Linked DNA regions of Homo sapiens: region 2 is linked to region 1. The links come from fine-mapping of genetic effects on gene expression. Tissue or cell type: whole blood. Region 1 holds a variant in brackets; the other region holds the start of a gene. All regions are shown on one strand. Distances are between the middles of the regions.

What was found. PIP is the estimated chance that this variant, and not a neighbour inherited with it, causes the effect. A credible set is the group of variants that fine-mapping cannot tell apart.
Region 2: it holds the start of ALB, and the variant in region 1 is the best candidate, but not a certain one, in a credible set for the expression of ALB in whole blood (TOPMed, PIP 0.56).

Annotation. Positions count from the first base shown.
Region 1 is chr4:73,262,158-73,270,271 of GRCh38, reverse strand. All of the region lies in intron 1 of ANKRD17-DT (ANKRD17 divergent transcript), which reads right to left. It overlaps LOC124900180 (small nucleolar RNA SNORA3/SNORA45 family), which reads right to left and starts at 6,312; the gene lies at 6,188-6,312. The variant T/G (reference allele first, on the strand shown) is at 4,530.
Region 2 is chr4:73,400,238-73,408,351 of GRCh38, reverse strand. ALB (albumin) reads right to left here and starts at 4,065. Exons shown (of 15, transcript NM_000477.7): 1 at 3,946-4,065; 2 at 3,179-3,236; 3 at 1,591-1,723. The coding sequence starts at 4,024. RefSeq lists promoters at 4,025-4,430, 4,010-5,171 and enhancers at 4,398-4,437, 5,710-5,930.

The sequences.
Region 1 (8,114 bases):
TTAGCAGAGCTAATACAATAATATACAAAAAGGATAATACATCATGACCAAGTGGGGTTTATCTCAAAAATACAAGGTTGGTTTGATATTCAAAAGTTAATCAGTGTAACTCATTGTAAAAACAAGAAAGAAAAATCCTATGATTATCTCAACAAATACAGAAACAGTATTTGAAAATACAAAATACATGCCTGACAAAAACTGTCAGAAAACAGAGAACAGAAGAGAACTTCCTTATATTGATAAACAGTATATGTGAAAAATCTACAGTTAACATCACACTTACGATCAGGAACAAGGAAAGGATATCGATCTTACCACTTCTAATCAGCATTGTAGTAGTGGTTCTAGCCAGTGAAGTCATGCAAGAAAAATAAAATCTCCATTTGGAAAATAAGAAGTATAACTCCCTTCATTCACAGACGGCATGATTTCTGTGAAGAAAATCCTATGGAGTGCATAAATAAGTTACTAGAACTAATACAGGAGTTTAGCAAGGTTCCAAGATACCAGATCGATATATAAAGTTAATTATATTTCTGTATATAGTAGAGCATCATTTCATATGTTTATTTTCCAGCCATATAGCTTACTTAGTGAATTGTCTATTCAAATATTTTGCCCACTTTTAAAAAGGTAAACATGTATCTATCATGTGACCCAGCAATCATATGAAAGCATGCCTGGTCGCAATCTTTTTTTTTTTTTTTTTGAGACAGAGTCTCGCTCTGTCGCCCAGGCTGGAGTGCAGTGCCGCGATCTCGGCTCACTGCAAGCTCTGCCTCCTGGGTTCACGCCATTCTCCTGCCTCAGCCTCTCCGAGTAGCTGGGACTACAGGCGCCCGCCACCGCGCCCGGCTAATTTTTTTTGTATTTTCAGTAGGGACGGGGTTTCACCATGGTCTCGATCTCCTGACCTCGCGATCGGCCCGCCTCGGCCTCCCAAAGTGCTGGGATTACAGGCGTGAGCCACCTCGCCCGGCTGCATGCCTGGTCACAATCTAATCTCGGGATGAATATGTGACCATACATGGCAAAGAGACTTTGCAGATATGATTAAGACAAGACTCTTGAGATGGGAAAGTTATCCTGCATTATGCAGGCAGACCTAATGTCATCACAAGGGGCTTTAAAAGATGGAAGAGGAAGGCGGAAGAGTCAGAGACAAAGTTATGATGGAAGCAGAGATTGCAGTGATGCGCTGTAAGATGGAGGCAGATGCCATCAGCCAAGGAATGCTGGTAACATCCAGGATCCAGAAAAAGTAAAAAGAATCAGCCCTGGAGTCTAGATAAGGAGTGCAATCCTGTCAACACCTTGATTTAAGCCAGTGGAATCCATTTCAGACTTCTGACCTCCAGAACTGTAAGATTATAAATTTGTGTTGTTTTAAGCCACTATCATGCAATTTATTGCAACAGCAACAGGAAATAAATACTGTTGACTTCTGAGAAGATTCTTTTGTGGAGCTTCTATTTTTACTTGGATAAATTTATATTCAGTACCAGAATGTAAAAAAAATGCCTATTATTATTCATTATCAAATTTATATAAATTTCATAAAAGGCCAGGCGTGGTAGCTCACACCTGTAATCTCAGCATTTTGGGAGGCCAAGGCAGGCGGATCACTTAAGGCCAGGAGTTTGAGACCAGCCTGGCCAATGTGGTGAAAACCCATCTCTACTAAAAATATAAAAATGTACTGGATGTGGTAGTGCATGCCTGTAATGCCAGCTACTCAGGAGGCTGAGGCACGAGAATCGCTTCATCCTGGGAGGGGGAGGTTGCAGTGAGCTGAGACCGTGCCACTGCACTCCAGCCTGGGTGACACAGCAAGACTCTGTCTCAAATACATACATATATACATACATACATTTGATATAACATTTAAGGAATCATAAAACAGAGATAACTTAATGAGCTTTGTCTTATAAAAATATTTGTCAAAGATCCTCTAAGTGGAGGCAAAAAAGACAATAACTGAAAACATTTGAGCTGAAATATTTAAATATTTAATAAGATAAAATCAGAATTGGGAATATACTCCATTTGGTATAATTTGCTCTGAGTTTACCAGATACCTATATTAACCTGTAGAGAGAGTATGTTCCAAAATTAAAATACTGAGGTAACTGAGAAGAGTCAGTTGAGGGCATCAGCAATTTTAAATTCATTAGCTGTAAAATGAAATGTGGAAGTTTAGAGATACTTTTATTAAAAATTATAATCATATAAAAATATATTCTTCAGAAGTAAAATATACCTGTAACATGACATGAGACAGATACAGTTAAGACAATGATTAAAATACATGAATATGTACAGAATTTATTATGGTTGTAACTTTTTAATGTATTGATAATCAGTATTAAGCAGTTTGTTTTCAATTTTCTCTAGTGTACCCAGATTTATTTTTGAAAATATTTTATTTAATTAATTAATTAATTAATTTTTGAGACAGAGTCTTGTTCTGTCATCCAGGCTGGAATGCAGTGGTGTGATCTAGGCTCACTGCAACCTCCGCCTCCCAGGTTCAAGTGATTTTCCTGCCTCAGCCTCCCAAGCAGCTGGGAATACAGGTGTGCACCATGACACCCGGCTAATTTTTGTATTTTTGGTAGAGATTGGGTTCCACCATGTTAGCCAGGCCAGTCTCAACTTCTGGCCTCAAGTGATCCACCCGCATTGGCCTCCCAGATTGCTGGGATTACAGGCATGCGCTGCTGTGCCCACCCTTGAAAATATTTTTTAAACAGAACTATCTTATAGGTTCACCAATATAATAAAACCAATTTGTCAACTCATACATATTATTAAACATTATGTATATTTGATTGATGCTTCATTTTATTCTTAAAGGTATCTCCATTTGGACAATAAATCATGTAGTCAATTATATAGTCAACCTGGGCATTAGGTCTAATAGTAATAGGTACATACACTGCACCTACATTGTTCTTGGACCTACGTATTCTGTTTACTAGGAGAAATGGACTCTGATTCCTGTAGGCCAGTACTTCCCAACCTGCAACTGGCATCGTAACTGAGTTCACTTTGTGAGTATGCTATACTAGTCCTACTGGAAGTATAGTTCACAAAGGTATGAGGGCTCCTCTATGACTGGGTTTCCCTGGAGTTTTTGACTCTCAGGCTTGTCCACAGTGAGCCTTCAGCATTTCATCAATTACAGTTCAGGTTTTCCTACCCCAGCACTGGTTCCCAGAGGTTTCTGCTCTGGTTATGATTTCCTGTATCTTCCTATCTGTCTCTCCAATTTTGAGGGCAGCAGTTTTCCCTGTGTCCTCATTTCTGATGAAGTTAAGAAGAGTTGTTGATTTTTGTTTGTTCAGCTTTTTACTTGTTATTAGGATGCAGTGGCAAGTTCTAAGCCCCTTATATGAGACTAGAAGCTCTGCCTGCTTTCAAAATTCATTGCTGTGTAAAAATATCAGTTTGCTTATGCTTTATTTTCTGGATTAAGTTACATGATATAAAACGTGCACATCTGAGGATCTGAGAAGATCTCTAGGTGAATTCCTGTATTTCAAGGGACTATTATACTACTTATTCCTTGCACAAAAGATATTCAGAGTTAAGCAGTTTGTAAGCTATACCCAGTGCCCTAAATAGTACTGTAGGTGCTGTATAAATACCATAGATACTTAATAAACATTTGTGGAATAATCTACAAATGAATGAATGAAAGATTTCCCTGGAACTCCTTGGATTCTTTCCAGTTTCACCAGATCACTCCCTAGTTTTCTAATAAACTCGATTTGTCCTGAGAAAGATAGAGGAAAGGAATTGTTCTAACTTTTAATATTGTTATTAGTTGTTAATATACTAACTTGGTCTGAATATGAACCTTGAAAATGTTTCTCCTGATTTTCAATTTGAAAGTACAAAATTCAGAAACTTGCAAATCTCTGTGTAAGGAGTTGTTCTATGCAATAACCACTCTAAGTCTTCCAAACAGTGACAAAAATTGCTAAACTGACAAACATAAAACAAAACAGAAAACTAAAATGTGGGTAGCTTATTTGTTTAGTAACAAGAGTTAAGTGCATTATTTTGTTGTAGATTATCTTTTGCATACTTTTATTCTCAAGCTGTCTTTCTCTGTTATCCAGGAATCTCTACGTTTCCCCATTCCCTTGTTCCCTTCTTTACCCAACCTAGGAGTACATGCAGAAAAACAATACTAATTTTAATTTCAAACTAAACGAATTTTAAGAGGTGAGATATATATTTGGGCAAATTTAACATGAGGGACATATTACCCAAATAACATTTAGTTGACTTTAAATGGATTTATTTAGGTAGCAGCTCTGTTCTACTAATGTGCCCAGTAGTTAATTACTATTTGTGCTAGACTGCCATCCCCAGCCTTCAGCTTAACTAATTTTTACTGGGCTCTGGTTCCAGAGCAGTGGACTAAGAAAATTATTAATGCTAGAGAAGGGTAGTAAGAGGGTGAAGGGGATTTCGAAATCATGCCATATAAGGAGTGATTAAAAAGAGAAGGATGT[T/G]TCCCTAAGGAAAAGAAGACTAGGGTAGATTCTTTATCAACATGTATCTCAAAACCCTTAGCATGGTCCACAGGCCCTGAATCATCTGTCTTCCACTTACTTCTCCAGCCTCATCTTGCAAACATTCTCACTTTCAGTGTTTCAGCTCTTTTGGCACAGTTTGATACCTCCTTTTTTAGGCCTTTTGCATATACATTCCTTTGGCTAGGAAGATTCTTCTCTGCTTTTTGGCCTATTTCCTACTATAGATCTCTGTTCACATATTACTTCCTCAGGGAAGCCCCAAAACAAAACAAAAGTTTCTAGCTCAGGTTTCCCTTGCAGCAGTTATTTCATTTGTGTGTCTCTCATGCTAGACCATAAGCTTCAAGATAGAAAGAACCGTGTTTGTTTTGCTAACCATTTTCTCACCTAACCCAGTGCCTGGTATGTAGCAGGTAGGCAACAAATACTAAGTGAATGAACATCCATGCTTATTCTGGCTAAATTGCTGTTTTCAACTCAAATGTCAAAAATTTCTTAAAAGCCCACACCGAAACAGTAACAACAACAAAAAAAGATAGGTGACATGAGTGAATAAGGACTGGGCATAATAGGAATTTATGGAAACTGTAGAGAATTGAAGACAGCATGCATTGTATAAAGGCATTCAAAAGTCAAACAACTCTGAAATGCTGTAATGACAAAGTATATAGCATGTTCATATATCACATTTGGCTATAGGCTGCCAGTTTGCAACACCTGTCTTAAGTAAATTGATATATTAATTATATATAATATTGTAGAGGGCATTTAATTCCATGAGAAAATGCTCACATATACTAAGTTTAAAAAAAAAAAAAAGCATGCTCCGGGATATCTTACTGGTGGATTGAAAAATAAAAATAAATAAAAAATTTTAAAAAGCATGCTAAATACAACAGTGGCATTCTCATTTAAAAATACACAGAGAAAACAACTGTGTAAAGGTTTGTACTAAAATGTCAACAGTGGATATCTCTAGATGATAGAATTGCATGTTCTGGTATGTGTGCTTTTTTGTATTTTCTTAGTATTTTACAATGAACATGTAGTGTTTTTGTACTCAGAAATAAATTGTTTTTACAAGGTAGAGAAGTAACTCAGGTGTCAATGTGGAGGATAAAGTAGAGTATAATAGGATCAGAGGCAGGGAGATTGACTATTGCAATAATGTGGGTGAAAACTCATGAAAGCCTAATTAAGGCAGTGGCTGGGAGGACAGTGGTTATCAATGTTACCTGGTCCTCTCTGCTTAAACATATGCTTCAATTTCTACTTGATTATAATTGCTTATGTTGGGCAAACTTTCAGGTGGAAAGCAGAGCACAAGCCACTGGCTCGCTGTTTTGTCTATTTTTTTATTTTTTAGCATTTGTTGGCATTTAGTGAACCTCTTTCCCTATGGCTTCAAGCCACCAGGACAAAGGTCCTCCCCACCACCGTCTTAATCTTTTTCCAAGCTCTTCTGCTACATAATTTGGCCTTCATGATGACAGACTGCTTTAGGAGATTTTCCTTCCCTAGCACTTTGTAGTAGCTCTAGAACAGAGAAAATAACTTACACTGTGGAAGGTACCAACTCCTTGATGGGAATGAGGAAAGATGCCTGCCAACCTACTTTCTAAAACCAAGGTACAGTATGTTTCTGCCCGGACACTTAAGGGGACACTGGTTGCCCCCATCAGTGAATCAAGACCAGCAGATGCTGAGGACTCCAGCACATTGGAGAAGAGCCGTGTCAGGATGTGACTCTAGTCTCAGAGAGCTCCTCTTTTGAATTCCCAAGTCTTCCTGGCAGTATCTATCCCTTACCTCTTGGAATTTCAATCGAGTAGAAACCCAGGAAATATTTCTCAATTCATGGGATATCTTCCCCTTCTGCAGTATCATTGAGACTGCCTCTGTTTCCCTGTAAGATTTCATTCTTAGGCAGGTTCACTCGACATGATGACCAAAGGCCAGATGTAGCTTGTGTTTTTTTTTTTTTTTTTTTTTGCTTATTCCAGAAGCAGGTGTCTTTTTCTTGATAGTGCTAGCCCAAATGATAAGACTATCTCTGATTAACTTCAGTTTTGTTAATCTGCCCATTCCTGAACTAATCACTATGGCTGAATGATAGGATACTTTGGCTAGCCTGATTTGTGGGCCTACTCCTGTGGTATAAAAATTAGAATTAGGTAATGAACGATTGCATCTGGAGAAAGAGGGACAGGTCTTTATTAGGGCACGCTCTGAAATCTCAGTGGCCTAACACAAAAGAATGCGTATGAGCTGTAGCACAAGTGTCCCTAATTGGCAAGCAAGTATCCTCCCAGTGAAGAGTCAGGAAACTCTAGCACAAGTGTCTCTAATTGGGAAGCAAGTATCCTCCAAGTGAAGATTCAGGAAACCAGGAGTCCTATCTTGCGGCTTTGCCATCTTTAACACATAGTTTCCAGTGCAAATTTGCTCATCTGCCTCAAGTTGATGGGGAGTGGGATATATTGGATTGCTCATGTGATGTTTCCATAGGCCAGAGCTGGAATAGGAGTGCATCACTTCTCACATTCCACTGGTTAGAACCTAATCAGCACACCTAACCCATATACCTAATTGCAAGAGAGGCATGGAAATATAGCTGTGTGGCCAGAAGAATTTAGCATTTGCAAGAATCTACTATTCTGATCACTAAACATGTATTTTACCTGTCTTTCCACACACAGAACATACCCTGTCCCAAAGGAGACAATCTAAAGTTTTAACCAGTTACTGGAACAGGCTCAAAGTCTAGGATTTTCAGAAAATGTGCAGTTCTCTTCATTAGGTACAGATGTGACCTAAGAACTAAAAAGACAAATTATCTTTATTGTCACCCCCATCCCTGCAAACCCAATATATAGTGGTAACTCAGGGACAGATAACTATAATACATTCTCTCATTCAGAAAAAAAATGTGATACTGAGCAATACTATTCATGTATAATAATGATGAAATACTGCATAAACATTTTGCGGCCCATCTCCTTGAAACTGAAGAAAGTTCTGATGAAACTCCAATTCTAGTCTTCAGGAGAAACTCCCTGTCCAGTCTTTAGTACAGCTCCTTATACGAGCTTCTGAAATGTTCTTTTTTTGTCCATCATTCTCCATGGCCACATCCTGTGTGGGTACTGGGGAGCTGTTAAGGTTTTATGCTCTATTTTTCTACTTATGCAAGCTTGGGGTTGGACAGTTACCCTCTGTTTTAACACCCGAACAATGATATTTGAGCCAGATTTAGTATGATTAATAAAATTCCTCTAAAAATGTAGTCTTCTGATTGATTTGCTTCTGGTAACTACACCCAAAGTTCTTTCTTACATAATTATCAAGCCTAATTTACTGCTTTGCTGCCTTGCTCCTATGCCAGTTCCTTTAGACCTTTATCGTAGCTATCTTGAAGCCATCTAAAATAATGACTTTGAATGGAAAGACCAAACCCTTTTCCTGATCTTTGTTGCAGGACTTAATCTCAAGGGTAACTATACTCAAGACCTCTTCTAGTTTTTTTTTTTTTTTTATTAGAAGTCTTATAAAAGTCAACTT
Region 2 (8,114 bases), 140 kb before region 1:
AGCTTTAAGGAAAGTTATATGACTCCTATTTTGAAACTTAAAACTAAAGGGTAAGAGCAATCATTATAACAGAAATCAAGAGAAAATAAGCTTCTAAGCAGCAGGTGAATTCACCTAGGGGAGAAAAACATTCAGAGAGTTTCTCATTTCATTTGCCCCCTTTTTAGAGGGCCATGTTTTAGTATATGCCATTGAAAACTGAGGAGTAACACAATCCATCATATATTAAGTGACTATTAAGATATAGACATTTTTCTTCCAGAAATGTTACCTAAAATCACTTTCCAATAAATGAGTCCTTTCCTTATCTCTAATTTTTATTATGAAAGTAACTGTAACCCCAGGGAAAATATACTACTCTAGACAGAATTTATTAATTTTTATGTATTTTTAAGATTTCATATGTAGAGCCATAGTATTGTGTAAAGTTAAAGTCCTGACTCTGCTGTGAGGGAGAGGTACATAATAAAAAGGGGAAAGGCTCCAGTGATAAAAACTGGCCTTGCCCACAAGAGGTATATATAGATTGAGTGGTGAGAGAAAGATAAACCTGTCCTTGTTTTGAAGATTGATCTGGAAATACTAAAAGTTTAAAGTTCTTCAACATGACTAAGTACTCTGCTTTTTTATTGTATGTAGAAATACAAAGATATCTAAAATGAGGAATATATAGCTGTACTATTATTCCACCCAGGTAACAAAATTAGCATAGAAATCAGTGGGTGTTTTCTGATGATAAAAACCATGATATCATCTCTAAGAGATAGTAGCTCTCCTGTGTTCATTGCAACACTATTCATGATAGTCAAGATGTAGAAAACCAACCTAAATGTCTATCAATCAACAAATTAATGGATAAAGAAAATGTGGTACACACATGCACTGGAATATTATTCAGCCTTGAAAAGAAGGAAATTCTGCAATAGGCAACAACATGGTTGGACTTTGAATGCACTATGCTAAGGGAAATAAGTCAGTCATAAAAAGATAAACAGTACATAATACCACTTATATAAGGTAGCTAAAGTAGTCAAACTCATAGAATCAAAGAGTATAATGCTGGTTGCCAGTGGCTGGGGGAGGACGAAACGAGGGGTTACTAATCAATGGGCACAAAGTTTTAATACAGCAAGATGAGTAAGCTATACAACAGTGTACCCGTAGTTAACAATAATGGATTGTACACTTAAAAATATAACAGGGTAGATCTCATGTTAAGGGTTCTTACTATAATAAAATAAGATAAATAAATAAATAAATACATGCTATCATATCCCTATTAGCCTCTACAAAAAGAAACCAAACCTCAAATTTTAAAAAGAGGTGTTTATAAATGACAAATTGCCATTTAAATACACCATGACTGTTGTGTTTGGTCTCAATAAAGAAATGATTTTAAAACTGTGGACATAGCTAAAGCATCTCTATCACAAAAGAAACAATGGCTTATCAGTCTATGAGCAACTTTTTAGTGTTTCTTACAAATCAGGACACTTAATAATAATTGAGAAAACTTAAAAAAAATTCCTTTGAAATGCTTGGGATTACTTCAAACAGAAGAAAGAATCTCCACAATTAGAATGTACTTACAAGTGATTTGTCACAATTTTCAGCTGACTCATCAGCAACACATGTTTTTGCAAATTCAGTTACTTCATTCACTAATTTTACATGATCTTCAAATGGACACTGCTGAAGATACTGAGCAAAGGCAATCAACACCCTGAAACAAAGGATGTAGAAAAATGTAGTATAATAAAACTTTAATATGTAACAGGTTGCTACGCTAGAGAACAAATCATGTATGGGTATAGGTTCTATCTTTTATACATCTTCTTCACCATTATCCAGAAAGCCTATTCATATCAGGTATGATCTGAGGCCTAGATAGGCATATGTGGCTTCCTACGCAAAGAGAATGGTAGTTCCCTAATGTTTATATGTATGCGTGTGTCAGTAGATCTATGCACACACATAGATTAAGCAAGCAAATTGTATGCCAAATAGATCTAATTGTCAAGACTAGGCATTTTTAAAGTCCTTAGAATTACTTAAAACTAAAACAAACCCCACAGATTTCCTTTTTCTTTTTTGAGACAGAGTCTCACTCTGTCACCCAGGCTGGAGTGCAGTGGCACAATCATGGCTCACTGTAGCCTTGACCTCTCAGGTCCAAACGATCCTCCTACGTCAGCCTCCTAAGTAGCTAGGACTACAGGCATGTGCCACCATGCCTAATTTTTTTGTTTGTTTGTTTTGTTTTTTTTAAAGAGACTTGCCCAGGCTGGTCTTGAACTCCTGGGCTCAAGCAATCCTCCTGCATCAGCCTTCCAAAGTGCTGGGATTACAGGTGTGAACCACCGCACCTGATCCCCACACACGTCTTTAATTAGCCTGTAGGATTAGGTAGACTTTTAAAAAAACAATTTTCTCATTTTTTACTAGATTAAAAAACATTTAAATAGGCCGGGCGCGGTGGCTCACTCCTGTAATCCCAGCACTTTGGGAGGCCGAGGTGGGCAGATCACGATGTCAGGAGATTGAGACCATCCTGGCACACGGTGAAACCCCATCTCTACTAAAAATACAAAAGATTAGCCGGGCGTGATGGCGGGCGCCTGTAGTCCCAGCTACTCGGGAGGCTGAGGCAGGAGAATGGCGTGAACCCGGGAGGCGGAGTTTGCAGTGAGCCGAGATTGCGCCACTGCACTCCAGCCTGGGCGACAGAGCGAGACCCTGTCTTAAAAAAAAAAAAAAATTAAATATTCCCAACTAAGCACAGGAATGCTTGCTATGTAAAGAAGATTTAGTGGGTAAGCCACCAAAGGAAACCTATATTAAAGTCCTTTCCACCAAGCAAGTTCCAGAGCTGTACTGTCCAATACAGTAGCCATTAGCCACATGTGACTATATACATTCAAATTAACTACAATTAAATACAATTTAAGTTTTTGTTTCTCAGTTGCACTTGTCATATTTGAAGTACTCAATAGCCATGTGACCAGTGACTACCTTATTGGATAGCCCAGATACAGAATATCTTCCTCAACGCAGAAAACTCTACGAGGCAGCACTGTTTTAGAATCTGAACCCTGATGACAAGGAAATATAAGCACTTTAGAATAATAAACAACACTATTAGAAACATTAAATTTGATTCATCAATATTTTAACTTACAAGGCTTTGAAATTTTCTTCTCCCAAATCTTTAAACCGATGAGCAACCTCACTCTTGTCTGGGCAAGGGAAGAAAAAAAAGGATTGTTAAATACTGAAGAAAACAAGAAGTAATAATGTTACTTTTTATATTTCTTTCCATTTGACTTAGATTATGCATTTGTTTCAAAATATTGGGCTCTGATTCCTACAGAAAAACTCAGGATGATGTTCAATTATTTCTTCTGCCTTTAAACAGAAGAATAATTCAATTACCAAGAATACTATTTTAAAAATTATTAAATATTTATAGCCTTATATTCAAACTTAGATAATATCTAATACTCTTTTAGTGTCTATCAACAGCAACCAAGAAGACAGACTAAAATGAAAATAAATATAAATACAAGTTCTATTTATGAGATCAACAGCACAGGTTTTGTGGTTTTTAAATAAAGCATAGTGCAATGGATAGGTCTTTGGGATAGTTATGAATTCAATCTTCAACCCTATTCTGTGAAGTTTCAGTCACTCTAAGTTACTTTGCACTTTCCTTAGTGCGCAAAAGAAAATTACAGTCACTAAACAATTCTGACCTTTTTTTTTTTTTACCTAGGATGTTTGAATTTTATTAATAAGATAACCTTGTAAGACTTCACAAATACAAAATACTATGCCATTTTAGAAATAAATGCCAAAATAATTCTTTAAAGATGCAGAGTTTACTAAAACTTTATTTTACTGGGAAAATAGAATAAAAGTTGAACAATAGAAAAATGGATTTCTTACGTGCATCTCGACGAAACACACCCCTGGAATAAGCCGAGCTAAAGAGAAAAAGAAGGGAAATAAAGGTTACCCACTTCATTGTGCCAAAGGCGTGTGGGGTTGACAGAAGAGAAAAGCTAGGACAAACGGAGGGAAATTAGCACTAATATACTTCTTTAACCAATAATTGTAGATTATTAACTAGACTCATCTTTGTATTTCATTGGCTGCCAACCGATTACAAAATTCATAATATTCTTGCCAAAAAATTGTTTGACTAAATCCCTTGTGTATATTTACCATCTGGAACTGTTTTCTCCACAAGACCTTGTCAATGTATTAAAGTTGTGTAAAACATCTTATCAAATTTTACATAAGAGTTTAAACGATTTGTACCTTTTATTCATTACCATGGTATTTAACTGTAATTTCCCACTTGAACATTTTAGTTCTTGGTGTTTGCAATTTAGTTCTCAGTGTTTAGTAATTACTAACCAAACTAAATACTTTGCTTAGAAATAAGACATACTGAAAGAGTTAAGTCCCAAATTGCATCTATTGCTAATTCCAAGTGTGCTTTTACCTATAGATAATGAAAAATTTACACACAAGTACTCACGCATGCACACACACATATACATACATACATATTTTAGGGCTTCTGTGTCTTTTTTACTATTCCAAAGCCATTCTGTCTGAAAAAGCTGATGTTGCCTCAGATGCAAACTAAGAAAAAGACATAGCAACAATAACAAGTAAGATAGGACTTAGAAATTCCATGTTCCCATTCCTGCTGTGGCCCACATGTGATTCAAGCCCTGAGATAGGCTATTTAGATTCAGTGTGAGTATATCTCATGGGATCTTCAGTTAAGCAGAGATGGAGAGGAAAATGGACCCAAATGAGATGATGATTATCTTTGCCATAATATACAATAGGACAGGCTGACCCCAAATTCTCTGTAGGTTATGAGAACCCTTGACCTTCACCAGGCATAGGATTCTTTCCATCCCTGTTTCATATTTTTTTCCTTTCTCTCTTTCAATAAGTAGAAAAATCACATGTTCTTTTATGTTGCTTTAAATTTCAAAATAAATTTAACATTATGTCTAAAAACAAAGCGAAGGAAGAATAATTTTTTAAATATTTCATAAATCTTCCTTCCCTACCCAAGGTTCTTATCTCTACCTCAGAAAAGCTATCCTACCTCTGCCCTTTTGCTCAGAATATGAAGAACTACTGAGCTCAACCAGTAGGAAGAACAACTTTCTCTGATACTACAGAACAATAATTAGTACTAAGCCAGTTATTTTACTTAATTAAATAACTCAGTCAGTCAAAACCAGTAGTCAAATTTCCTCATGGCACATAGAGGCACAGAGACTAACAAAGTATTATTTTTTCTACTCAGTCTTATAATGAAAGAAAATTTTTTCTATTCAGTCTTACAATGAAAGAAATTATTTTCTATAATCTTATGTTATTTCTTCTTCAGAAATGGGTACTAATTAACTAATAAAGCACAGAAGAGGAAAAAATCAAAGCTAGATGGATGATAGATACATAGATAGATAGGAAGATTTTTTTTAATGACTCAAGGGAGTCCTGAAAGGAAATACCAGACTTGTCTTTCTGACTACAGATGAACAGACATAAAACAAGTGTGCCTATTTTCCATTGAAGAAAAACAAGCATTTTTTCTAAAGCCAGAAAAACCTACATCTGAAAAGAAAAAAGAAACTATTCTAAGTTAAGAAAATAATTCTTTCTTGGATAAATTATGTCAACTTTTAACTTCCTAGAAATTGTAGGCATTATTTATTAGAAGTCAGTAACCAACTCTAGCTTTTTCCTTGTAGAAGTCCCTGGGAAAGGCCTACCCAAACATAAAATCCTTACTGTTGAATACAATTGTTACTAATTGACAAATTCAGGCCTTTGTCACTCTCACATATACTTTGTGCATACTTTTTCATTTAACAAATGAAAAGAATAATATTAGTCCATTTAGTTTTCACCACAACATTATAATGTAATATATTGTTAAATACAAAGAAACCTAAAAAAATCTCAAATTCATCATGACTGAATAGAAACTTTGAATTGATTTTCCTATATCTAATGAAGAGCCCTAGCTTTAAAACAAAATTGATGAAACCTAAAAGAATCTTTTCTTTTTTTTTTTTTTTTTTTGAGATGGAGTCTCGCTCTTTCGCCCAGACTGGAGTGCAGTGGCACTATCTCGGCTCACTTGCAAGCTCCGCCTCCCGAGTTCACGCCATTCTTCTGCCTCAGCCTCCCGAGTAGCTGGGACTACAGGCGCCCGCCATCACGCCCGGCTAATTTTTTGTATCTTTAGTAGAGACGGGGTTTCACCGTGTGCCAGGGTGGTCTCGATCTCCTGACCTCGTCATCCGCCCACCTCGGCCTCCCAAAGTGCTGGGATTACAGTCATGAGCCACCGCGCCCGGCCAAGAATCTTTTCTTACAGTACTAATGAGGCATTTTGCATATGTGCATCCTACTAAAAGATTAATAGTTTAGAAATTAAAATATTTAATTCTCAATGATATCTGCATACTTAAAATTAATGTTTCTTAAGAAATACTTGAACAATTGCATCTTCTGGATTTGCAAAGTAAAAATTTCTGCATTTTTCTCTGAAAACCTCTGGCATTAATTCTATATGAACATTCTATACTGAGAGAAATAAACCTACATAATTGTTAGTCATTTCTAAATTTCCTGTTCTTCAAACTTTGAAACTCTGTTTAGTCAGTCATCAACGGGCTCTGGCATGAGGGTAAATGCAAATATTTAGAGTAAGAGTTATAAATATGGTTTAGAGATTCTCTTTACTCGGTAAACAGAAAAATAGCCCCAATGATTTTTAAATGTTTTCTCATCTTTGTGGGAGAAGTTTAAAAATAGAGAGTAGTTAAGAAAAGTATTTTCTTTAGAAAGAATAAGTGTACTGATCATTTAGAAAAGAAAAAAAAAATACCTCAATTGAAATGTACATATACCTGGGATTTAAACCTGAGCCTTTAACCCTTTTGTTCTTTGTTTTGCATTCACTTTGACGTGATACAAAAGGCACAGTTTTTAAGTAGATAAAATGTCTCTGAACCGGTCTCCCATTTTCCAGCCACTCTAACAGTAACTTTAAATCCGCACCCTTCTGCTACCCTCAGGACTCCCGAAGCTTCTCACTGAGTCATTCACACCAGGTTTGCCCTCCATCTAGCAATCCATTTAGTCCAGCTTTTATGCCATCTCCCACTCTGATAGGTTATATTTCTGACTCTTCTTCTCTTAAAGATAAAGGGAAACATATTCATGGAAATGTAATAATATCTAATAATATCCTCAATATTTTATAAGAGACTTTCTATAAACAACCACTTTACCCAGAGTCATTCCAAAATACAAGAAATTTGGATTTGTTTGGAGAGAAAATTGGGGACAGGAAAATCTTACCATTTTTCTACTATAAAATAAACATATGCAGATCCTTCCTATCATGAAGAGCTTGTATTACTCTCTACAAAATATGCAAGAGTGGAAAAGTGAAAGACTGTTAAGCATCAAACTAACCAATTGAAACATAATCAGTAATTTAACTTCTTATTCACTTATGGAGATACATTTCCCTCAAAAAAAGTTAGAATGAAAGTGTATAAACTTATATAAGTATTTCTAATGCAAATAAAAATGTATAAACATATAGGTATTCTAATGCAAATAAAAAATTGGAATATAATCCAAACAATTGCTCCCTTATTTCCCTCCATAAGCCATCCCCCCAGATATTCACTTGAATTAGTGAGAAATATGGAATTGGCTGAAGATTTCATAGGGAATGAGGAGAAAAAAGGTTATATCATAAAAACCACCCTAGGTCACCATCTTTGGCTTGTCCCACCTTTTAAGTCCCTCTGCCCCCAGATCTTCCATGATGAAAGAGTCCCTCTCCTTGACTTTCTTCATGTTACACTGGGCCTCTGGAATATATATACATTCGAATTTCCTAACCTTTTACTTTAAATTTCTCAGTTCTTCTCCGTGTGGTTTAATTCAGCTCAGTGTCAGTTTCTAGCTGCAGAACTGGACATGCAGATCTGCATATATCTCTATGCCATATGGGTCAAGTTGGACTAAATTATCTTTAACGATCCTTCTACCTTGAA